Homo sapiens: one gene and its partners. The protein of the gene in region 6 purifies or fractionates together with the protein of the main gene of each other region. This does not show direct contact. Each region holds a gene or a part of one and is shown on either strand. Other genes may lie near its edges. The genes, in order: ERC1, MAP4K1, SH3GLB2, ASAP1, SOS2, LRRK1 and SOS1.

Evidence for each region.
Region 1: the proteins of LRRK1 (region 6) and ERC1 purify together in Homo sapiens (affinity purification with mass spectrometry; one large-scale study listed by BioGRID and IntAct). This does not show direct contact.
Region 2: the proteins of LRRK1 (region 6) and MAP4K1 purify together in Homo sapiens (affinity purification with mass spectrometry, with the first as the bait; one study listed by BioGRID). This does not show direct contact.
Region 3: the proteins of LRRK1 (region 6) and SH3GLB2 purify together in Homo sapiens (affinity purification with mass spectrometry; one large-scale study listed by BioGRID and IntAct). This does not show direct contact.
Region 4: the proteins of LRRK1 (region 6) and ASAP1 purify together in Homo sapiens (affinity purification with mass spectrometry, with the first as the bait; one study listed by BioGRID). This does not show direct contact.
Region 5: the proteins of LRRK1 (region 6) and SOS2 purify together in Homo sapiens (affinity purification with mass spectrometry, with the first as the bait; one study listed by BioGRID). This does not show direct contact.
Region 7: the proteins of LRRK1 (region 6) and SOS1 purify together in Homo sapiens (affinity purification with mass spectrometry, with the first as the bait; one study listed by BioGRID). This does not show direct contact.

Annotation. Positions count from the first base shown.
Region 1 is NC_000012.12:997,723-1,001,222, reverse strand, and holds part of ERC1 (ELKS/Rab6-interacting/CAST family member 1), read right to left. Parts: intron 1-3,500. UniProt on the Homo sapiens protein: Regulatory subunit of the IKK complex. Probably recruits IkappaBalpha/NFKBIA to the complex. May be involved in the organization of the cytomatrix at the nerve terminals active zone (CAZ) which regulates neurotransmitter release.
Region 2 is NC_000019.10:38,587,141-38,590,547, reverse strand, and holds the end of MAP4K1 (mitogen-activated protein kinase kinase kinase kinase 1), read left to right. Parts: intron 1-1,272; coding exon of another isoform or gene 1,273-1,370; intron 1,371-2,730; coding exon 2,731-2,800; 3' UTR 2,801-2,907; downstream 2,908-3,407. Other genes in the region: RYR1 (ryanodine receptor 1), read right to left, coding at 3,128-3,223. UniProt on the Homo sapiens protein: Serine/threonine-protein kinase, which plays a role in the response to environmental stress. Appears to act upstream of the JUN N-terminal pathway.
Region 3 is NC_000009.12:129,011,332-129,014,831, reverse strand, and holds part of SH3GLB2 (endophilin-B2), read left to right. Parts: coding exon 1-61; intron 62-328; coding exon 329-421; intron 422-1,812; coding exon of another isoform or gene 1,813-1,824; intron 1,825-2,533; coding exon 2,534-2,596; intron 2,597-3,500.
Region 4 is NC_000008.11:130,051,604-130,055,674, reverse strand, and holds the end of ASAP1 (arf-GAP with SH3 domain, ANK repeat and PH domain-containing protein 1), read left to right. Parts: intron 1-869; coding exon 870-944; 3' UTR 945-3,571; downstream 3,572-4,071. UniProt on the Homo sapiens protein: Possesses phosphatidylinositol 4,5-bisphosphate-dependent GTPase-activating protein activity for ARF1 (ADP ribosylation factor 1) and ARF5 and a lesser activity towards ARF6.
Region 5 is NC_000014.9:50,225,079-50,228,578, forward strand, and holds part of SOS2 (son of sevenless homolog 2), read right to left. Parts: intron 1-3,500.
Region 6 is NC_000015.10:101,065,857-101,069,356, reverse strand, and holds part of LRRK1 (leucine-rich repeat serine/threonine-protein kinase 1), read right to left. Parts: coding exon 3,152-3,500; intron 2,718-3,151; coding exon 2,616-2,717; intron 687-2,615; coding exon 509-686; 3' UTR 1-508.
Region 7 is NC_000002.12:38,988,552-38,992,051, forward strand, and holds part of SOS1 (son of sevenless homolog 1), read right to left. Parts: intron 764-3,500; coding exon 719-763; intron 1-718.

The DNA of each region.
Region 1 (3,500 bases), on a different chromosome or scaffold from region 6:
ATTAGCCAGGCAAGGTGGCAAGCACCGGCAGTGTGGCTCACGCCTGTAATCCCAGCACTTTGGGAGGCCGAGGTGAGCAGATCACCTGAGGTCAGGAGTTTGAGACCAGCCTAGCCAACATGGTGAAACTCCATCTCTACTAAAAACAAAAATTAGCCAGGCGTGGTTGCCCATACCTGTAATCTCAGCTACTTGGGAGGCTGAGGCAGGAGAATCGCTTGAACCTGGGAGGTGCCGTGAGACGAGATCGCATCACTGCACTCCAGTCTGGGCAAAACTCCATCTCAAAAAAACAAACAAACAAAAAAGTTAATTAAAAATAAATAAATACACAAATAATGGCTTCAAGAAAGAATTCCTTCAAAAGGTAAGTTATATTCCTACAGTAAAATTATGTTTAAGGTCTGAATTTTATTTCTTGAGAAGTTTTTACAATTTCAGACACTTAATTTTTTTTGTTTTAAGACAGAATCTTGCTCTGTCACCAGGCTGGGTGCAATGGCGTGATTTTGGCTCACTGCAACCTGTGCGTCCCAGGTTCAAGCGATTCTCTCACCTCAGCTTCCCAAATAGCTAGGACTACAGGCACACACCACCACACCCAGCTAATTTTTGTATTTTTAGTAGAGACGGGGTTTCACCATGTTGGCCAGGATGGCAGAGACACTTAATTTAAGTTCACACAAATTTTCATCCCAAAATTTTCATCCCATTGGGTTATTTTTTTTTTTTTTTCTGAGACAGGGTCTCGCTCTGTCATCCAGACTGGAGTGCAGTGGTGTAATCCCAGTTCACTGCAACCTCCGCCTCCAGGGTTCAAGGAATTCTCATGCCTCAGCCTCCAGAGTGGCTGTGATTACAGGCGTGCACCACCACACCCAGCTAATTTTTTTATTTTTTAGTAGAGATGGGGTTTCGCCACGTTGCTCAGGCTGGTCTTGAACTCCTGGCCTCAAGTGATCCACCCACCTCAGTCTGCCAAAGTGCTAGGATTACAGGCGTGAGCCACTGTGCCTGGCCTGATTATCTTATTTCCATGCAAAAGGGCTTCCAAACATAAATGCATTAACAATGAGAAAAAATGAAACTAATATATACAAAAGGGCTGTCACATAAAAATTATCTATTCATCACTTAGCACACCATAATAAAGTTAAAAAGAATACAGGTGTTTAGTTTCATTCTTTGGTGAACAACTAAAAATGACTGTTCAAGAGTTGCCACCTTTCTGAAGCACAGCCCTGATCATGCATCTCCTACTCAGAAATCTTCAATAGCTACACACGCAGTATCTCAAGATTGGAAGGAATCTTAAAAATCACCTAGCGGGCTGGGCACAGTGGCTCACGCCTGTAATCCCAGCACTCTGGGAGGCCAAGACAGGCGGATCACCTGAGGTCAGGAGTTTGAGACCAGCCTGACCAACATGGAGAAATCCCGTCTCTACTAAAAATACAAAATTAGCTGGCCGTGGTGGTGCACGCCTATAATCCCATCTACTCGGGAGGCTGAGGCAGGGGAATCGTTTGAACCCGGGAGGCGGAGGTTGCACCATTGCACTCCAGCCTGGCGACAGAGTGAAACTCCATCTCAAAAAAAAAAAAAAAAAAAAATCACCTAGCACCAGGTTCAATGCTTGCAACCTGGCAGAGGATGCACTACCTCATAGAAACATTCACACCATCACTGAACAGCCATGGCTCTAGAAAAATAAAAAGCAATAGTAAAATGGAAGGTGGAGGAGAGGGAGAAATCAAGAACACCACACACATTTCCGGCTTAAGCACCCAGTGGTGTCATTTAACAAATTAAGAAACACCAGAGGAAGTGTAGGAATCATACATTCCGTTCTGGATGTGTTCGGTTTAAGGGGCATCCAAATGGAAACATTCAGTAGCAATTCGATAGAGTGGTCCTCAGACTCAGGAGAGAGGTAAAAACTGAAGACATAAAAATGAATACTCAGCACACAGATGAAAAATGAAATAGAAAGCGATGAGAAAGCCCAAAGAAATTCAAACATTTAATAAATGAGCACAGAAAGACTCAAAAGGTGACTGAGAGGCCAGGCACGGTGGCTCACGCCTATAATCCCAACACTTTGGGAGGCCAAGGCAGACAGATCACCTGAGGCCAGGAGTTCGAGACCAGCCTGGCCAACATGGTGAAACCCCATCTCTACTAAAAATACAAAAATTAGCTGGGTGTGGTGGTGCACACCTGTAATCCCAGCTACTCAAGAGGCTAAGGCAGGAGAATCACTTGAACCCAGGAGGCGGAGGTTGCAGTGAGCCAAGATTGTGCCACTGCACCCCAGCCTGGGCGATAGAGCAAGACTCTGCCTCAAAAAAAAAAAAAAAAAAAAAAAAGTGACAGAGAAAGAGCCCAGAGAACCAGCAAGAAAAACAGAAAAGTGCTCTGAAGACCTCAAGAGAAGAGAGAGCTTTACAAAGGAAGGAGGGGTATCCGCTCTGTCAAATGCTGCTGTGGTAGACAGTCCTGAAATGGCTATGAGTGATCTCTGCCTCCCAGCATTCATGCAATTGTGAAATCCTGCCTTGAGTGCACTGGACCTAGTGACTGGCTGATAACAGAATACAACAAAAGTGATACCACATCACTTCCAAGATAAGGTTACAAAAAGATTCTGGCTAATATCTGTCCTCTTTTGAAGACAGAAGCACTGAGATATCATATTTTAAGTAGTCGTACGCAGAAACCCAAATGGCAAGGGACTCACCTCTCCAGCAAGCAGCCAACAAGGACCTCAGGCCTGCCAATTGCCGCATGAGTGAGCTTGGAAACAGCCTCCCCAAGTAGCGCTTTGAGATGACTGCAGCCTTGTGAGAGACCCTGAATCATAGGTGCCAACTGCACCCACATTCCTGATCTACAAAATCTGTGAAACAATAAATGTTTCTTAAGTTAGGGGGTAATTTGTTATATAGCCAATAGAAACTAGCACAGCTGCTAAGAGGTTAAATAAGAACAGGATAGTAAAATAGACATTGGCTATTTTCATACATATTTTCACTAGCTATTTTCAGTTTCACTGAAATAATGGCGATAGAAACAAGACAGAAATAGGTTGAGAAGTCACAGGTGAAGAAATGGAGATACACAGCAAATGCAGAAAACTCTTAAGTGTGTAAAGCAGAGAGCAACTTAGAGCAATAAAGTATAAATCTGGAGTTTTTTATTAAGATGAAGAGACATTTTAAAGTTTAAATGATGATAACAAGCCAATAGGGTGGAAAAATACACTCTCATGGAACTTCATTCTTTTATCAAGAAACTCCTCTAAAAGTCTTCAACTTCCTTGGGAAATGTTCTTGCTACCTCTCTGCCTTAACTGAAAGCTGACTTTCCAATCAGGACACCTCTTCTCATATAGTCCTTTTAAGTGAAAGCTACTCAGTCTCTTCCACTCCACACCCAATACTGGGAAATGAGGCTGGTACCTTCCTTCCTGCCAGTGCCAGTTCCAGACCACTATTCCC
Region 2 (3,407 bases), on a different chromosome or scaffold from region 6:
GAGATTACGCCACTGCACTCCAGCCTGGGTGACAGAGCGAGACTCTGTCTCAGAAAACAACAACAACAACAACAAAAAATTTCACCCGTTGTCCTAGTGACGCCCGTGATTATATATATATATATATATATATATATATATATATATATATATTTTTTTTTTTTTTTTTTTTTTCTGGTCCAAGATCATAGGTGGCACTTAGGAGCCATGTTTCTTTATAATTAAGCCGGAAAAAATAATTAAAACTTCTTTTGTCTTAAAGGAGCTTTGACCTTTTTAAAAATTAAAGGAAATTTGTTTTCTAAAATGTCCCTTAACTGTGTTTGAGGTTTCCACGTTCTGAATTTTGGGCAGGAATACTGCAGAAAGATGTCTTTCTCAGTGCATCATTTCAGGAAGTACACAATGCTAGTTTGTCCCATTACTGGTGATATTAACTTCGGTCATTTGGTTAAGGTAGAATCAGCCAGTTCTCTCCACTGTGAAGTTGCTTTTTTCTCCCTTTTTCTTTTTTTTTAAAGATAGATTCTCTCTCTGTCACCCTGGCTGGAGTGCAGTGACGCGATCATGGCTCACTGCAGCCTCGACCTCCTGGGTTCAATCAGTCCTCCCACCTCAACCTCCCGGGTAGCTGGGATGACAGGCGCGTACCACTACACCTGGCTTATTTTCGTATTTTTTGTACAGACAGGGTTTCGCCATGTTACTTAGCCTGGTCTGGAACTCCTGGACTCAAGAGATTCACCTGTGTAGGCTTCCCAAAGTGCTGGGCTTATAGGCAGGGGTCACCGCACCCAGCCTCTGTTTTTCTTTGTAATAAGAAGTATCCCACCGGTCGGGCGCGGTGGCTCACGCCTGTAATCCCAGCACTTTGGGAGGCCGAGGCAGGTGGATCACCTGAGGTCGGGAGTTTGAGACCAGCCTGACCAATGTGGAGAAACCCTGTCTCTACTAAAAATACAAAATTAGCCGGGCATGGTGTTGCATGCCTGTAATCCCAGCTACTCGGGAGGCTGAGGCAGGAGAAGCGCTTGAACCCGGGAGGCGGAGGTTGCAGTGAGCCGAGATCGCGCCATTGCACTCCAGCCTGGGCAACAAGAGTGAACTCTGTCTCAAAAAAAAAAAAAGAAGTATCTTTTGGGGAGATTCACTGAGACGAGGTAAATAGTCTGTAAATACGTTGTTTCTCATCAGATTTTCACCCACTAGTTTTATTGTTTTTTGTTTGTCTTTTGTTGTTGTTTTGAGTCAGAGTCTCACTCTGTCCCCCAGGCTGGAGTGCAGTGGCACGATCTCGCCTCACTGCAACCTCCTCCTCCCAGGTTCAAGCAATTCTCCTGCCTCAGCCTCCCGAGTAGCTGGGATTACAGGTTTGAGCCAACGCACCTGGCCTGCCCACTAGTTTTAGAATCAATTGATTTTTCCCTGAATCTATTATTGTTAGGTGGCTACTAACAATAAATGGTGATTTTCTGATTCTATGTTTCCTTCTGCGTGTGTTAGTTGGCATTCTACTCTAAAGAAGAGCTGTGTCTTCTCCATTCTTCTTTCTTTATACCAGCATGGTCTCATGGATTTTTATTCTGTGGGTTATAGTCTATTACTGTCATTATTTATTTATTTATTTATGAGATGGAGTCTCGCTCTGTCACCCAGGCTGGAGTGCAGTGGTGTGATCTCAGCTCACTGCAACCTCTGCCTCCCAGGTTCAATCGATCCTCCTGCCTCAGCCTCCCGAATAGCTGGGATTACAGGCGTGCACCACCATGCCTGGATAAATTTTTTTTTTTTTTTTTGAGACAGAGGCTCGCTCTGTCGCCCAGGCTGGAGTGCACTGGCGCTATCTCGGCTCACTGCAAGCTCTGGCTCCCAGGTTCACGCCATTCTCCTGCCTCAGCCTCCCGAGTAGCTGGGACTATAGTGCCTGCCACCACACCTGGCTAATTTTTTTTTGTATTTTTAGTAGAGATGGGGTTTCACCGTGTTAGCCAGGATGGACCTGGATAATTTTTGTAGTTTTAGTAGAGATGGGATTCACCATATTGGCCAGGCTGGTCTTGAACTCCTGACCTCAAGTGATCTGCCCCCCTTGGCCTCCCAAAGTGCTGGGATTACAAGCATGAGCCACCATGCCCGGCCTTGTCATTATTTATTTTGAGGCACAAATGGTCTTAAATTTAGCCAGTGGGAACCACTTTAAGTAGCCCCTGTGTCCTTTTGACATGCCAGAAGGGTCACTTTAAATCCAAATCTGATCGTGTCACTGTCTCCCTGCTTAAAATCCTCCCATGGCCTCAAGATAAAGACTCAATCCTGGCCACAGCCCACAAGGCCATGACATCTCCAGCCAAGTCCCAGCCTTTCTCCCACCTCAAATCCTTTGCACAGGCTGTTCTCCCCAGCCAGAACACTCTTCCTTGCCCTTTCACCAAGTTCCCTCCTAACCCCCCTTCAGGCTGCACCATCCATTCTCTGGGGAGTCTGGGCTGACCTCCTGGGTTAGGTTTCCCTGCCAGACATGCCATGCTTTTTTGCACTCATGTAATTCACTGATTCATGTTGATCTCCTTCTCTAGAATGCAAGCTTCCTAAGGGCAGGGACCGTGTCTGCCCATTCACTGCTATAGTTCAGCATGGGGCTGGCACAGTCTCTATTAACTACTTTGTGAATTAATGAATCAATGAACATATGAATGAATAAATGAACTGACTTATCTCTTCCTTCCACAGGCCTGTAGTGGTGGAGACACGCCCAGTGGATGATCCTACTGCTCCCAGCAACCTCTACATCCAGGAATGAGTCCCTAGGGGGGTGTCAGGAACTAGTCCTTGCACCCCCTCCCCCATAGACACACTAGTGGTCATGGCATGTCCTCATCTCCCAATAAACATGACTTTAGCCTCTGCTGTCATCTTGTTTTTCTTGGGGGAAACAATTCCTGGATGTCCACTCCTCCAAAATTTCAGCAGGCCAACACAGTGATGCTGGGGGGCGTAGCACAGATTTATTTTCCAGTACTAGGTCACCTCTCCCCCAGCTGCCTTAGGGGGAGGGGCTTGGGGACTAAGGGGCTTGCTGTGAGAATAAGGCACTTGAGGTGGGGGTGGAGGGCCAGCTGGGGGTGTGTCAGCTAAGCTGGTCCTCATACTGCTTACGGAAACAATCACCAGCTGGGAAGAAATCCCAACATCTCTCTTGGTACATCTTCCAGACATAAGACTCCTAGGATTGGGGATAGAAAGAGTTCATTGGTCACATCTTCAAACCCTTGAGACATATATATATATATATTTTTAGACAGGGTGTTGCTCTGTTGCCCAGGCTGGAGTGCAGTGGCGACAATCACAGCTCACTACAGCCTCCTGGCTCAAGCGATTCTCCACCTCAGTCTCCAGAGTAGCTGGGA
Region 3 (3,500 bases), on a different chromosome or scaffold from region 6:
CTCCATCAGCTTCCTCACACCCTTGCGCAACTTCCTGGAGGGGGACTGGAAGACCATCTCGGTGAGGGCCCTGGGACTATTCCGCTTCCTGGTAACCATGGCAGTTCCCTCCTCAGAGCCTTTGAGTACAGGCTCTCTTCCAGTGCTGGGGCTACAAAACTCCTGAGGCCTCCCCAGAGAGGGCTCCTTTGGACTGAGTGACCTCCTATCTCTGGGCCTCAGTTTCCCTATCTTGACTTGATCGTCCCCGGCACCAATCTTGCCATGCATGGCTCAGGGTCTCCCAGGGCAGCCCAGGGTCTCACTGTCCCCATGCCCTGCCCTGTAGAAGGAGAGGCGGCTCCTCCAAAACCGGCGTCTGGACTTGGATGCCTGCAAAGCGAGGCTGAAGAAGGCCAAGGCTGCAGAAGCCAAAGCCACGGTAGGTGTCCCCGCTCCCCGCTGGCCTCCTGGCCCAGGCTCTGGCTGGAGCCAAGGGGTGGTGGCATGAAGGGACCTGGTATTTGGCATGACCTCTCTCCCCTCTCCCTGGCTGGAGATGCCTGGCTGGGGGCTGCTGGGCTGAGCCTCTCTGTCCCTGCCCTCAAGGGAGCCTTGGTGGCCCCCGAGCTCTGGTTCCCAGGGAGATATCTACGGTGTGGGCGGACCAGCAGTGCCCCCAGCTGGGTGCACCACCCCGCCAGGCAGCTGGAGTCTCCTGCATGCCCTGCCCTGCCCTCCTAGATGCTCGGCTCTGTCCCCGGCTCTGCCCGGGCATGGCACCTTCTTACTAACTCTACTACTTGCTGCTTGAACGTCAGGCCGAGGGTCCCTGTGCTCAGGCGCCCCCACGATGGTGTGGAAAACCTGGGAGCTGGACCGCCCGCTTGCTCAGGGCCGTGTCCGAGGGGTCCCATGAGATTGGATAGGGCCTGGGCCATCTGGCGCCCCCTTCACTCCCAGCTCACTGAGGCCTGTTCAGCCTGGCTGGGTCAATGGGACGCAGCCTGGGACAGTGTGCCCAGGGCGAGGCCAGGATTGGAGGAGCTGGGCCCAAGGGTGAACACCCTCCTGGCACAAGAGGTTGCTCAGGGCTGCCAGGCCTAAAGGCTGCCTCATACCTTGCAGAGGGAACTCCCAGGCCCAGGCCTACTAGGGAGATGGCTACCTGTGGCTGCCAGCTGATTAGCCGAGGGAGGCCAGGCCTAGCCTGGGCTCACAGCTGCCCATGCACCTTGCGTTCCCCTCCCATAGTGTGGCCCCAGAGCCAGCACTGCCCCTGGCGAGAACCGTCTCAGGTCACTCAAGTGTGTGGGGTCTAGATCAGAGGCAGGGGTGTAGTTGTTTCAATCTTGGGGTTGGCTAGGGTGACCTGTGCCTATTGGGATGACCTCTTCTAAGGCACCTGAACAGGACAGTCTCCCCCGTCACTTCGGGCCAGACACCGTCTCTGGAGTAACTCAGCCAGAACACACTCTCTCCATCAGCCAGGCCAGAGGAGCCTTTCCTGTCATTGCAGTGGTGTGGCCTCTCCCTCACCTGGTGGGCCTGGACAACCTCACATCCTGGGGTTGGGCCAGGCCACCTTTCCAGAGCTAGGACTTGGGCAGCCCCAGGAACAGCATTCCAGAGGACTCAAGCTCCACAGCTCTGTCCCCATAAGCACGCACACGTTAGGACTCTTCAGGAGGGCAGGCTGTGGTGCCTCCCTCCGCCCGACCGCCTGGTGTCCCCTCCCACTGGGGCCTGGGGGGCCTGCTCCTGCCTGCGCTGTGGACTCACTAACTCTTTGTTTTTGTTCCTTTCCGTCCTGCTTTGGGTAACTTGGCTCAGTGTGAGGGAGATGTGAGTATACCTGTCCCACGCGCTGTGCTGCTTCCGGTCTGCCCATCTTGCCCGTGGACCCACGGTGCCATGGCCAGCCCACGTCCTTGGGGCATTTTGCAAGCAGCTGGTCTCCCCGCCAGAGCCTCTACTGTGCAGGGCCTCTGGTTTAGGGGGGGATGCCAGGCGTTGGGGCCTGTGAGTCAGCTTTTTGCAAATGTTGGACGCCTGTCACTCTGTCTGCCCATGCATCCATCTGTCCACCTTCATTGTCGGGAGGGGCCTGGCCCTTGATGCAGGAGCAAGAGATGTGGTGTGCGGATTCTGGGATGGAAAAAGCCATCCCAGTTGGGGGTGGGCTGTGTTTGCGGGACCCTGGGGCATCTGAGTGCCACTGGTCTGGGGAGGAGGGGGCTGTGGCCCCTGGCAGGGGAGAGCCCAGCCTGTGACTTGCTCAGGCAGCCTCGGCCATCTCCTCACCGCATTTGCTCTCCTGAGCTCCAGTGCCTGCAGCCACTTGATCTTTGTCTGGACTCTCCAAGTCCCTAGGCCCCTCATCTCCAGGTGGTTGGAGTCGGGAGAAGGGGGTTTGTGTTGTGTTTGTATCCCCGTCCCTGGGGTCAGGCCTCTTGGCATCTCCTTGTGCAAGACTCTGGGGTAGCCTCCTGACCTCGACCCTGGCCCTGGCCCAGGGTGACCCCCTCCCCACATGAACTCTGTTCCCCGCCAGACGGTGCCTGACTTTCAGGAGACTAGACCTCGTAATTACATTCTCTCGGCCAGCGCCTCCGCGGTAAGCGCACCCCACCCCCACCCCACCCCTCGTCCTCCTCTCTCCCCACGTCCCACACCACTGCCTCTGACTGCACAGGAGCTAGAAGCCAGCTTGGGTAAGGCGGGGGCACTGCCATGTGATCAGGTCAGTCCTGAGACACTGGGGAGGGGCAGCAGCCCCCACCTCTGTCCACGGCCTGGCCCCGGTGCCCTGTGGCCATGGAGCTGGACTTGTTTCCCTCTGCAAAACGCTGGAGCTGGCGGCAGGGCCAGCCACACTGAGTAGTGTGGAGAACTCAGGGCGGCAGCTGTCCCATCCCCAGGGCCCCTCCACCTCCTGCTGTCTCTGAATGCCAGGCCCTGGGGAGGCCCTGAGGATAGAGGAGGAGGCCTGGCCGTGCCTTTCTGGAGTTCACAGACCCCTAAAGACAGGAGGCAGGGATGGCGTCGTAGGCCTGGAGAGCGCCTGGGGGGCGGGAGGGCCTGAGGCTGTGCTTAAGGCCCAGAGGTCCTGGAGCAGGGCATGTCTTGTCCTGAGGCTTAGGCAGGGCCCCCAGGGGAGTTGGGGCAGGAGGTGGGGAGGACAGGATCGTGGAGGCTTCGCATGTCATGGTGTCTGTTGGTTTTTAGGCTTTCTTGGGAAGTCTGGTGTTTCCTATGTAGTTTGGGGACTAGGCCACACCTCTCCCTCATGCTTGTCACCACTGCTACACCTTGTCTGCCCACTTTCTCTCCTTCCCGCCCCTGGAGGTGAGACCCTCACCTCTCTCGTGAGCATGCTGCCTCATGTCTTCCGTGCCGTCGTTCTGTGGCTGGGTGACTGTCCCTCAGGCCGCCAACCCTAGTTGGCTCTCACAGCAACTTCCAGTGCTCCTGGACGGGGACTTCCTAAGCAGCATGGGGGCCACACGGGCCGGCCACGC
Region 4 (4,071 bases), on a different chromosome or scaffold from region 6:
GGTAACTGGCTTACAGGCCAATGCAGCAGACAATAAAATTGCCATTCGCCACCATCAGTCTCAAACTTTCACAGTATTCTTCCTCCACGGTAACCAGAAAACAAGTGATAGTACATAGCAGCCTTTTTTTTTTTTTTTTACTGGCTAGAACAACACTTTACTCACAAAGAGAAGAGACAGAACAAGATTAGCTTTGATTTGAGTATGGTACCCCGCAGTGGGTCTTGCCAGGCAGCTGACACAGCTTAATGGTCTGTATGCATCCTACCTGGGCTGTGGGCAAAGAAACCCCTTCCTTCCCAACTAGGAATAGGTAATAGTACTGGGATTGGCCAGGTGCCATAGCAGCCTTTTCATTTGCTTTTTTTTTTTTTTTTCTTTTTTAAATGTATCACACAAGCCTGGAGAGAAGGGATTTTCTTTAGCCCCACTTAACAGAGAAAAGGCTTAGCAAGGTTTGTGTGAGGTCACCCAGCTGTAAAGGCAGCCAGGCGCCCTGGTTCAGAGCAAGGACTCTAGAGCCCCACGCCTGTGGGAGAGCATGTCACCTCTCTGGGCCACTGTCCCTTCATCTGTAAAATGAAGATTGTAAACTGTATAAGAAATATCCACCTCAGGGGGTTGCTGTGTGGGTACAGCAAGATCCATGTAGAATGCTGAGCATATTGGAAGTTCTGTCGTTTGCTCTTTCCTTATGTAGTTTATGACCGTTAAGCTCTCTGTAGTTCACTAAAGGGTGGGAAGAAGGGTAAGCCTGGGATTCCACCGCCAGGTCTGTGGGCAGACTAGGCTGGGCTCTTACCCACTGGGTTTGTCGTGGGGCCACTGCCTGCTGCCTCCATCCTGACCACTCTCTTTTCTCCCTGCAGATTGGCCACATCGAAGGACAGCCTGAAAGGAAGGGGGTCTTTCCAGTGTCCTTTGTTCATATCCTGTCTGACTAGCAAAACGCAGAACCTTAAGATTGTCCACATCCTTCATGCAAGACTGCTGCCTTCATGTAACCCTGGGCACAGTGTGTATATAGCTGCTGTTACAGAGTAAGAAACTCATGGAAGGGCCACCTCAGGAGGGGGATATAATGTGTGTTGTAAATATCCTGTGGTTTTCTGCCTTCACCAGTATGAGGGTAGCCTCGGACCCGGCGCGCCTTACTGGTTTGCCAAAGCCATCCTTGGCATCTAGCACTTACATCTCTCTATGCTGTTCTACAAGCAAACAAACAAAAATAGGAGTATAGGAACTGCTGGCTTTGCAAATAGAAGTGGTCTCCAGCAACCGTTGAAAGGCATAGAATTGACTCTGTTCCTAACAATGCAGTATTCTCAATTGTGTTACTGAAAATGCAACATTAGCAAAGAGGTGGGTTCTGTTTTCCAGGTGAAACTTTTAGCTCCATGACAGACCAGCCTGTAGTTATCTGTGTACACAGTTTACAGCTACAAAAACCTACTTTGGTATTTATTACAGAAAAGTGCTCAGTTAAATGTAAGTGTTATTCCTTCAGCAAAATATTCACTGACCCAAAACTCTTTATGGCATTTTACAATGCACACAGCCTCATGCAAGTTTAGACAAGTGGATTTATACTGTCTTATGAGTGCCCGCCCCTGATATATTACCTCATTATGCAAAAATAACATATCTTTCATGACTATTTTGACAAAAGTTTAAAACACATATGAAGTTCAAATTTCAGGAACCAAGGACTGCCAGAAAATATTAGCCTCTACATTACGCATGCATTTAGAAGCTTACCTGAAATCTGCCTTTTATAAAGGAATAGTATGGATAAGTGGAATTGTACATTTTTTAAACTTGATTGCCATTAAAGCAGAAATTATAAGGTTGCAACAATATTTGTTTCTAATCACTGGCTTTCTCAAGAGTATGGATTGACATATTGTGTTATGAATGCACATCTCTCAGATGTGTTGAAGCATCCATTGCATCCATTTTTTATTATTTTCTTAGTTTTGTTCTTGGACAAATTTAAACTTTTAAAAGATTATTCAAGATGAATTTAAAAGTCAACCCTTCACACAGTTTCCCTACTGTATGTAGAATCCAGGTGCTGAAACCAAGTGTTTCTTTTCCCATGCTCTTTGTTAAACCCCAATTATAGATAATTTTTCCAGTCTTAAGCTCTGTCCACCTTCAAGTCAATTCATAACCAAGTTTTTGAACGCTGCTATGAATTGCACTGTGAAAAGCACTCTTCCCTCTCAGTTTTCTTTTCATCCCAGCCATGTTTATCAGATCCTTAAGAACATTGTATTTCAGTCTTTTACATCAGTCTGAATTTTGGAAAAGAATGCAATAGTTGTACTCCACAGTCAGTGGAACTGTTCCCTGAGTCCGAGGCTCATGTGTCATTCTGGCACTACATTTGCTTAAATTGCTATTTTGGCAACAGCACAGAAAACTAATATTTTTAAGCAGAGAATCTTGGCAATGAGTGAGAGATGTTAATTTCACAGAAGCACAACTCCCAACCCAACCCTTAGGAAAAGCCCTCTTCCATCGTTACAGTGCTCAGTGAATATTAATTTAGTTCTGCTTAAGTGGTTGCTATACAAACTTTGAATAGCCACCTAATAAATAAACCTTGCATGACAAACCTGCAAAATATTTTATCAGCTGTTATTGGAAAGTGATTTTAAGCAATTGCTTCCTCAGTGTCAGGGCACATGTGAATTTCCACACCAAACAGAGCATGAGGAACCAGTTGACATGCTGGGTTGTGACTGGCAGCTTTAGCAGCCTCGGTACTGAAGCCACACCAGTGTCCGGATGGAAGTCTGCATCTGAGGTTGCTCAGTGTCCCGGTCATTCATTTACACATTTTAACTTGCATTAAAGAGCTGTTCTTTTCTGTGGCCTAGACTCTTTTCACTGATCTCAAAATAAACTGGTTTTTTTCAAAAAAAAAAAAAAAACAAAAACAAAAAAAAAACACAAAAGCTGCATGTCTAAAATTACATGGAGTTAGTGTCTATTCTTTTTCCCCTTTTGCAGCAACTTACACAGCATTTTTAACACCTTTTTTTTCTAGTTTTTTTGTTCGGTTTTGTTTTCCATCAGGAATTTGAGTTCTCTCTAACCCAGCTTACTGTGGGACATAGGAAAACTCAGTAGAAATACCTTTGGTGATCTTGTTGAGTTTAAGTCTGATCTTGATCTTAAACTCAGTAAGCCACTATCTGCAATTTTGTACATTATATAGTATTTTGAAGATATGGAACCTTATGAAAAAAAAATAGCAAATTAGTTCTTTTTCCCCCAGAGGGGAAAGTTATGTTCTGCAAATAGTGTGTGTCTTATTTTACTGTTGAACAGCAATTGCTATTTATTTTTTTATTGCCTAGAACTTCAACATGTTGTATAGGAATCCTGTAGTGCCACTAGTTAAATGCCGAATTCTCATCTGGATGTTACCATCAAACATCAGTACACTTGTCATTTCACATGTGTTTAATGTGACAGTTTTTCAGTACTGTATGTGTTAATTTCTACTTTTTTTAATATTTAAAATTGCTTTTAAATAAACATATTCTCAGTTGATCCCAAACTTCTGAAATCAGGCCATTTTGTGAGTTGTTCACTACCCTGCTGACAGGAGAGAATCAAGGCTTCCTCTGGCTGTGCTTTCGGGTATATAGATGACACAGGTCACTCCAACCCTTGTCAGAGATCACTCTGGATACATAAAAATATGTGGCACTTGCCCCGGCTTACAAACTGTGGGCCTTCGGCCCCTTTCTGTCCTCCACCTTCCGCATTCCACCTCCACCACGTCCACTTGTGCGCCCGTTGATGTGAACAGGGCAAGAAGAGGGTGGAGGGGCACGAGGCTTACATGTTGTCGTGTGGACAGCACTTCTGTCACGTAGCTGTCACAACTAGTGCTGCCACGCAGTGGAGCAGACCTGGCCCAGGCACTCTGCCTGCATTAACCCCTGAATCCTTAGCAAGCCCAGGAGAAGCGTGAGCCCCTCAGCTTTACAGAGCTGACAAATGAGGCTCAGAGGCATTCATTCACACACAGGAGACATGTGGCTTGTAAATCAC
Region 5 (3,500 bases), on a different chromosome or scaffold from region 6:
TTTGAAAAAACTTTGTACTAGCATATATTCTTATGTAAAAGAAGAAAATAATTTTTTATGGACATGGGGTCTCGCTATGTTGGCCAGGTTGGTCTTGAACTCCTGGCCTCAAGCAATCCTCCCATCTCAGCCTCCCAAAGTACTAGGATTACAGGCATGAGCTACTGCACCTGGCCCATGGAAGAAAATAATTTTTGGTTGTTAATTTTTAACATGAGATAATGCTAAATCCACTAGTTACATTAAAATTCCTTTTGATTCAAATATGCAGGATATAATCAAATTACTGTTCCCTTGAAAGAGAGTCCATGGTTAATACAAAAGACATATAGTTGATTTATGTCAAGGGGTAACACAGGTAATGCTTTGAATACTCAGCATAAAACACTTTAATGGAATATTATTGCTCCAAATATACCATACCAAAATTAAACCAAAAATAGAAGGCTACTTAATCATTGCTGACAGGGAGCCAAGTACAGCAAGTTAAAGTACATTCCTACCGCTCATCTAGTTCTGGCTGAACTCTTCGGGTCAGTTTGGGTCATTATTAGTTTGGAATAATTCCAAATGACTCCCTCGAGTTCTACTGTTACATTCAGCGGCTTTAGGAATTCCAGAACAGGCTCATGTCACAAAAATCACAGGATCTCTTATTAGTTTTTGGCTTTGACTTGAAGTAATCTTTTCAAAAAGCAATTCTGATCAAGTTAATCTAATTACTTTGCTATGTAAATGAGAACCCAACAGGACTTCCTATTCTCAGGCAGAGACCTTAACTCAGTGTACCTACAGTCTACCATACTAGCTTCATCCACTTATTCTTCTTGTTTTTTAAAATAAGTCATTAAATTCAGAATCTGAGACCTATTCAAAACAAACAAACAAACAAATCATGTTCTTACTTTCCCCTCAGCCTCAAATCCTTCCCCCCCGCCCTTTTTTTTTCTTGTTAATTCTACTGATCTTTCAGATAATTGTTTACTTCCTTATTGTCTGTCTCTCTGCCACAGCCACTTAGAACACAAGCTTTATAACAGCAGGGGCTCTGCTACATCTTCCGTATCAAGAACAGTGTCTGCAGCCAGGCGACGTAGCTTACACCTGTAATCCCAGCATTTTTGGAGGCCAAGGTGGGAGGATCGCTTGAGCCCAGGAGTTCAAGACCAGCCTGGAGACAGTAATATTACTATATTTGAATATATAATCCAGAAAGAAGCACAAATGTTGCTTGCTTAAAGTCTTCTTTGACTCTCATATATCAATGACACCAGTTATATTTTCTCAGATCACCCTGTACTTTTCTTGTGGGCCTCAGGAAAGATCCAGTGCCATCTTCTAAAACAAACTTCCAAGAGACATTTGTACAAACGCAGAAACACTAGGATCTCAGTAGAACTTCACAAAACCATTTTTAAATCAAAGCCCCTACCGATCTTTTTCCTTGCCGTAGACTGCTATTAATTAACCCAGACATTCTCTCACACCTCTTGCCTTTTAGATATCTAAGAGCAAATTGTCACAGGGTGGGGAGGTCGATATTTAACCTGAATCTAATTGGACTCAGGAACAAAGTAATTCAACCAATTCTTTCTAGCTTTCTCTGACATTTTTAACTACAGCTGGCAAGAAAACAGCCATGTTCTTTTCTATGGCTAGCCTGGTGAAAAACACCTTACAGAAAAGACATCTACAAAATAAATATCAGGGACTGTAAAATCTGATAAAATGATTTTGAGGCATATTTCCCATATGAAGAATGCTGATTTATCTCAACATATAATCAAATAACACATGCATATAGTACCAAGGGATTTCAACGACACAGGTAATAAACTGCATTTACAAATATACACCATGCTCTTTTTTCCCCAAGTAACACAATAGCTTCAATGATCTTGGGGAGCAGTGGTGAAGGCAATTATGTTCTAGGCTCTTTTAGGGAAGATACATAATTTAGCAGTAATGTTAACAATCCATGCATTATCCATTAGTAGTGTCATTTCACTCTGCTTTGTAGCTCTCTGTTTTTAAATGATCTAGGTGAGGTTCTATTTTAAAAGTTTAAGAACAAGCAAAAAGCTAAAGAACACCACATTTCTATTCCCAAAATTATTTTTCCATAAACCTATTTGTCTATCTCTGTGTTTCTTTTTCTTTCTTTCTTTCTTTTTTTTTTTTTTTGAGACAGAGTCTCGCTCTGTCGCCCAGGCTGGAGTGCAGTGGTGCGATCTCAGCCCACTCTAACCTCTGCCTCCCATGTTCAAGAGATTCTCTGCCTCAGCCTCCCGAGTAGCTGGGATCACAGGCATGCACCACCACACTTGGCTAATTTTGGTATTTTTTTTTTTTGAGACAGAGTCTTACTCCATCGCCCATGCTGGAGTGCAGTGGCGCGATCTCGGCTCAACTGCAAGCTCCACCTTCTGGGTTCATACCATTCTCCTGCCTCAGCCTCCCGAGTAGCTGGGACTACAGGCGTCCGCCACCACGCCCGGCTAATTTTTTGGGTTTTTTTCTGTATTTTTAGTAGAGATGGGGTTTCACCGTGTTAGCCAGCATGGTCTCGATCTCCTGACCTCAGGTAATCTGCCCGCCTTGGCCTCCCAAATGGGATTACAGGCATGAGCCACTGCGCCCAGCCCATCTCTGTGTTTCTATGTAATGCAATGAATACTTGAGATTGGTTTTTTAAAAATCCCTTGAATTTTCAATGTTGACAATGGTGACTTTGTCAAATACATATATATATGGATCTATATATGGGTATATATGGATATATACATGGATATAGACATAGATATCCAGTTTTCATAAAAACTAGCCAAAACTGGAAAATAAGCAAAAGAATACTGGCTGTGTTTCAGTACAGTGCTATGCTTGAATCTTTTATTAATTTCTACTGACTATTTTACACATCTATAAGATTAAGTTACAGCTTTTCAGCAGATAGAGATGCAAGTAATTTTTTTTTTTTTTTTGAGATGGAGTCTCGCTCTGTCGCCCAGGATGGAGTGCAGTGGTGTGATCTCGGCTCACTGCAACCTCTGCCTAGCAGGTTCAAGTGATTCTCCTGCCTCAGCCTCCTGAGCAGCTGGGATTACAGGCACACACCACCACACCCAGCTAATTTTTGGTATTTTTTAGTAGAGACGGGGTTTCACCATGCTGGCCAGGCTGGTCACGAACTCCTAAACTCAGTTGATCCACCAGCCTCAGCCTCCCAGAGTGCTGGATTACAGGTGTGAGCCACCACGCCCACTGAGATGCAAGTAATTTTTAGCCAGAGGAAAATATAACCCAAAGCCTACTCTTTTATGTTTCTTGTAGGGTATTAACTAATTCTGTATGTAACCCAACAGTCTTAATATTCCCTTATTAAATTGCCTATAAATACCTCCTCAAATTTTCATATTAAGTGACTTTAACATCTTACTAGTTCCCTCATCAATGGGCTGAATCAAAATAATTGATACATGTTCATTTACATTTGCATGGAA
Region 6 (3,500 bases):
TCGGGGACTCAGGAGCCTGTGGAATGTGCTGAGAGCCTGAGGTCTCTGGCGGGGAAAGGGCAGGGGTCACAGCCCCCCTCCTGCCCTACCTCAAGTGCTTCCCAGCGGAGGGCCTCTAGTGTAATTCCATCTGAGACCTGGGGATGGCAGGAAGGCCCGGCCCTGCTTTGTTTGACCCAGCTCAGAACAGGATCCTGCACCCCTGCTCCTGCAAACTGATGGGGGAGGCCAGAGGAGGCCGCTCCCAGCCTGATACCACTGTCTTCCCTGGGGCTGTAAAATCAGCAGTTGGGGGATGGGGTATTCAGAGAACTCTGCTCCAGAGAACCAGAGAACCCTGGAGCCACCGCCAGGCGAGTAACTTCTCAGCACTTCTTAGCAGCAAGGAGTTCAGGGGAGAACTCCATCTGTCTTCTAGGTCCTTGGAGAACTAGAGGCCGATGGCAGAGGGGTCAGGCTGCAGCCCCGGGCCAGCCAGCTCTGATGTGTGACAGTCATTCCACAGGAATTACCTTCTCTTGCGAGTGCAAGCCTCCAGCCGGCCCAGCTCCTCGTAGGACTGGTAGAAAATGTCGAACTCCCTGGCGCCCCAGCCCCTCCAGACGGCCAGGCACCACTCTGTGTTTTCATTTTCAAAGGTGCACACAACAGTGTCCTTTGCCACCACGGCAGCATCCACCAGCACCCTGCAGAGAGAAGGGGGTCTGAGGAAACTCACAGGGGTTCCCACTCGGGTGGGGTTGGGACCCTCCCCCTGTGCCTTCTGAGGAAGGCGGAGCTGGCTAAGGGCAGGGGAGTGTGTCTGCTTGCCAGCCCTCTCTGGGGTGTGCTGAGATGCACCACTTCTCCCCAGTGGCCAGCCTGTGGGCTTAGGCTTTATAAAGTCCAAAGACGGGCTGTGGGCATGAGTTCGCGTCCATGGGCTTTGTCTGTAAGAGTCAGACTCCCTGGAAGGCCACAGAGGCAATCAGATCATGCATCCTTGACTCAGCTCCCAAAGCGTCCAGAAAACACCACTGACCCAAATTTCTGCTTGTGAATGGCTCATGACCGAGTTTAACTCAACTCCCTTGCCACTAAGCTCAGTAAGATTCTTCTCTCATTCTGTTTCTACAGGCTTAGGAAATACAGGATCATATATTAAATGGAAAACCTACTGCCCCAAAGTCATCACTATATACATTTTTTGAAACTGTGGACAGTTTTGCAGGATCGGTGGGTGTGTGCTACAGGTTTCCTTTTGGGCCACAGTGTGGCCTCCCTGCCCTGGTGGTGCCCCACCCCAAGCACATACTAATTGCCTTTCCTCCCTCTGTGTCCCGTGTGTGCGGCCTGCGTGGCACTGAGGTGCTCCTGCAAACTGGGATGTCCAGGGACCTCTCACTCCGCGTGGCCTTGCCAGGACCTCCCCTTAGGGGAGGAGCCTCCCTCTAGCGAGAAAGAGGTAAAATCTGGCTTTAGGGATGAATAGGAGAAAAACAACAGCTAAACGTTAGGACATTAATGGCAGGTATGCCAAGGTCCTAACCTGGGTGCTGCACACCCATTTCCTCCAGAAGCCCGACCTGCAAGCTGGGAACTCCATCAGTTCAAGGCTTCTACCCACAGGCTCTGCCAGAGCTCAGGAGCAGATCCAGATCTTGCTTCCAGAACCACTTACAGAGTAAGGGTCACTGGCCCAGGACTCACTGCAAAAGTTCAAAGCTGGCAGGCAAGGGAGTGCGACTGCCAAGGATGTCCTTGTCATTGTCCTGCTTTGGGAGAAGCAAGCTGACTGGTGTTTCTCCACCCTCTTATGCTCCAGATGAAATAAAAACCCACTTGCCCAGGGATGGGGGATAACTCATGCTGCAGGGAAACAGGCCTAGTGTGAAATGGAAGAGCTCCAAAGTACACACACACACACACACACACACACACACACACACACACACATTTGAACTGAGGACTTTTCGTAGGGGAGATTTACCGTGTGGGGCTCGGTAGTCAAAGTGCGGGGTGTAAACACTGTGGGGAGCTGCAGCTGGCGCCAGCCTCACATCACTGCAACCATGTAGACCATGTCCCGGACAGGCCACCCTGCCCAGCATACCTTCACAGAGGAGACTGGCATAATCCTGGGGGTCCCCACCCACAGACAGGTACTGAGCTATGTCTCAGCCCAGGAAGGGCAGGAGCTGAGACCCCAGGCTTGGAGATGACAAGGTGTGCCTGTGTCATCTGTCCCCATAGGGTGCTGTGTGGGCTGGTGGACACCTCGGGTAGGGTTTCCTGCTTGGCAGGAAGAACAGTGAATCAATGACCTGGATGCATCTGCATGTCGATTGCAGCTGAACTCTGGCCCTGGAGACATTCGTTAGGTAGGGTACTAGGTAGGGTACTTGATCTACAGGTGCACTGGGTACTCCAGAAACAGGCAGCCATGGCCAGTGCGGAGCCCCTAGGAGCTGTCTGAGGGGCCCCATCTTGTTTCCACTTTGCCTTACAGCCACGTTAGTGGCTATGCTATTTGGGAGAATGGAAGGGCAGCAAAGCCACTGTGCAGGACCTGGCTGCAGGGCCTTCTGTGCTCATGCTGCTGCCTGGGTCCTAAAGGAGCTGCCACTCAGTCTTACCCATGCGGAGTCAGCTCTCGGGCTTTTAAGACGGCAATGACTCGGCCCCGCTGGGCGCCAGAATCCTTCTCCAGGCCAATGACGATAACATCTCCACCGCGCCTAAGCAACCAAAACCCAGAAGGGGAAGCGATTTGTCGGTAGCCGTGCTCTCCGGGGAGTGAAGCCGGTGTGCAGAAAGGTGCGGGAGGGAGGCAACAGACATGCAGTTTCTGCTAAGGGATTAAGTTATGGGGAGGGGACAGACTTCAAAGCAGAGGAGAATTTTCTCAGTGGAAACTGAGTCACAGTTGACTGTGGCTTTCCTTGTGTGGCACCTTAAGCTCTCTGGCAGGCAATAAGCTTTTGTGCGGCCACTCTTAGATTTGCTAAAGCGATCGCTTCCATTCCCAATGGAGGAAACCAACCCTCTTGGAAGAACAGCACCTGCCTCCCCACATGACCTGTAAGGAAGCCAGGGGGCTTCCCCTTGCTCTGTCCCCAGAGCAGGAGCAGTGGGCGTGCCCTGGATGGTGCCCTCACCTCGGGAAACGTACCTGGGGACCCAAATGAGGTCTCTGACGGCGAGGATCTTCACGGCCTGCAGGTGCTGGCTGAAGGTCTCCCCGTCCATGGGGGTCAGGTCATGCTCAGACCTGTCGGAGGCAGCACCGGGCGTATGTAGCATGTCTGAGTCCTCGCAGTCGGTGGAGAAAGGCACACTGGAAGAACTTGCTGGGGAGCTGGGGAGGCTTGAGGGGGACCTGGCAGCCTGGCGGGGTGGGGATGAGGAGTAGGAGGACATGGAGCAGTAGTCAGTGAGTGATTCCTGGTGGATCAGGATCTGCGTGCCCAGCTCCTCACTGTACATGATGCTCACGTCCGCGATGGAGTCCCCCTCAGGCA
Region 7 (3,500 bases), on a different chromosome or scaffold from region 6:
TAAAAAGAGTACTTTGTGTACTGATATTATTTAAATGATCAACATTTTGATCACCTACCTTTTTTCTTAAGAATATAGTTAATTCAGCTTGTAACTAGTATTTTCCATTGTACATATTTTGAAATTGTATGAAAGGACAGCAAAAAAATATTAGCTTAAATAATTAAAATAATGGAATTTAGTGACTTGTTAGTTTACCTTACAATTAAAATGGAACTTTATTTTGTTTATCAGTATTTAGGCTATACTTTGAATAATTACAATTATAAGAAAGTTCTTCTAAAGTCAAAAGCAGTTGTCTATAATCTATCCTGCCATCAGGCTAAGTATATTTTGTGATTTAGAAACTGCATGTAGCTGCCAGCATTCCCATATGCGCATGCATGCTCTTGCCTTTTTTTTTTTTTCAAAGTTGAGCATTAAAATATACTTAGAACTCTATAGTTGGAAAAAAGAAATGGTTAAATGTGGAAGCCACTTATTTAATATGTTCTTTTAAGAGAGAAACAAGGTTTTATAAAAAGCATGAGAAATATATAAATTTAAGCAAATCACTTATGATCTAAAGATAGCACAAGTGAAGGCCTCACTTCTAGGATGTTGCAAGCAAGGTACCAATGCTGCCAGACCCAAGAAGAGTTTTAGCAGGAAAGGTTACACTTGGTTTGATTTTTAAAGCCAAAGCAAGAATTATGAGTCTTAAACCAAATATACTAACTTGGGCCATGGGGCAGAGTAACTTGGATAAAGACGGTATCATTGCCTGTGAAAGGAAACAAGAAAAAGTAGATTTTTTTCTTTCATTGATATATTCAACTCATCTGCAAAAATTTGTATTATGATGAAAATGTTATTGTCATTGTCGTTTTAAAGAATGCTGTAACAGTTTATAGTAAAACCTCATTACTACTTACTTTTGAGAAGAAAAAAATGATATCATATTGGGAATTTAAGATTCCTTTTAGCTTTACTTGATTTCATAATTATTAAATGAAAAACATTCATAAAAAAATCGTATATTACTGAAAGACTTTTTAAAATGTAGAAACCCAATTCAAGCAAAAAGTTCAGCTGGATGTATATAAATATGCCATTTAGTAAATATTATTTTGAAAACTCAAACTTGTGAAACAAGTAATAAGTTTATTTTATGTAAGTTGAAAAATAAAAAAGTTACTAATTATATGTCTTTCAAAAATGTTCTTGGGGCATATATTCTCATCACAAAATAACTAGCACTTTGGATATAAAACAAGCTTGAAATTGATACAGGGTTTTTCCTTTTATAGTCATAAACATTTTTTTTAAAGTCATTAAACATTTGGTGCCTAGACTCATTTTACATAGGAAATTCTGATAAATTTAAATTTAGAAAGTCTAATTTCAACAATATTAATTATTTTAAGGAAAAAACTGAAAATCAAAAGCGAAAGCCCCAAGAGCATTAAAGTAGGAAAATTGAGACAAAAAGCTAGGTGATCTATACTGATTCTAAATCAATATAGTTGTTTGTTTGTACAGTGTCTCATATTAACAACAGATGGAACAGATAACGTTATAACATCCAAGAGACTAAAATAATACTAGACTGTGGTAATTTTTTTTAAATTCAGATTTCGTTTTTTTTTTTTTGCACAATAGGCAATCCCTCACATAATTTGGAATATTAAGTTTATTCAAGCATATTTGGTCAGAAGGAGGGTGATCTCACATTCCAGATTTCTAGGCAGCCCTAATTTCAAATAATCTGTCCCATTATCTGATTTCCGTATGTACTGATATTTATTTGGAACCTATGATTCCTAAGTGTAGCAATCCAGCTAATTCTAATATTACCTTTCAGAAGATTAAAATTCATTTTTCTACTCTGAAATTACATGAAGCTGTTGCTCTGCCGATGATTTTCTTCCCTATTAGCCACCTATAATTGAAGATTGCCTGGTTGTAAAAGGGAGCCAGAGATCTGACGTAATAGAGATTAAAGGAGTATCTAGCTCTAGCGTTTACCCTACTTATATATGTCCCACTTTTCCTGGAAAAGAAATAAACATATCTCCTGGAGATATGCCTCAAGAACATGATAGTACACTTAATACAATACAGGAATAGGAGTAAAATCAAAACACAAGCTCATGACTGTTACAACTATAGTCTTTAATTGTACATATGCATGCACACTTGTGTACACAGATGTAAACTTGGCTTTGAGTATATTTATATATAGCACAGGCTTAGACTCATGCATTTGGTAAATTTGGGGCACTAGTTGTCTTATTGCCTGGAAAATACTATAGAAATTCTTTTAGAATTTTACATGCACTAATCAAGAAATATATGCTAGAAATTCTTGTCAGTTAGATACTGAGTAAATTTACTGATAATGACTTAGAAGTGAAATCTAATTAATTTAAAAAACAGTATTAATTTATTAAGCATAATCCCAGATGACAGACAAATGGTCCTCAATCTTGGCTGTACATTAGAATCCTATGGGAAGTTTTTAAAAAATACTGATACCAGGTACCAATGCCAGTCTAGTGTGGGCTGGGCCTACATATTTTTTTTAAGCTCCTCAACAGATGATACTATACAGTCAGGGTTGAAACCACTCTTAAAGATACTCCCCAGTTTATAAAGGAGTCATTCTTGATAGAAACAAGCATTTTTCTATAGAAAAAAAAAAAAAGATATGATAGATAACTTCTTAAACTCACAAAAGCCTGGTAAATGCAAATATATTTGGGATTAGAAACTCATCACCTACAGCAATCTTCCAGGAGGAAAAGCCTTGCGTTATCAGCTTGACATACTTGTAATACATTCTTTTTGTTGTTAAAGAGTCCCCTAAGGGATGGAAATGGAGAAGTCAGACCTCTGACTCCCTTTTATGACCAGGCAATCTTCAAACAGGAAGGTAAAAAGAGCATTTCATCATTTTCTCCTCTCTATTATAGCAGCAGAAACAAGTAGTGAGCCAGTGGTCTTTTCTCTTTTCTCAGCAACTGTCGTCATCACCTCAAAGGTGGACCTGGCCAGGGCAAGGTGTGGAGCAGGGCTTTGAATGTATGTGTGGCAGCACTAAGTACGTGGCCACTTCTCTGCCCTGTCTTTGCCACAACGCTTTCCATGACCACTCTTGCTCATTCTGAGGTCATCTTTCTATAAGCTTCTCCAGTATTTATGTCTTTACCACTATTTTTAGCGTTTAACTGTGAATCTCTTTGCACTATGATTATTTTTAATCTCTCAGTAAGACTGCAAGCTTTCCCAGTGAAGACGTGTAAGTGTTTAGCAAGGAATAAGATATGCAGCAGATACTGGCTGAAATAATTAATTATAGGTTTTTAAAAGTAGATTATTTTGGGAAAAAACCGTAAGAGTAAAAAAAGAATAGTATAGTATTATAACTGATAAAAAAAAATTCTAGTCAAACTCTGCCTTTTGAAAAACTTAAACAATGGAACTTTGTACTGCTTTGAGTGGAATATGTTGGGATGACA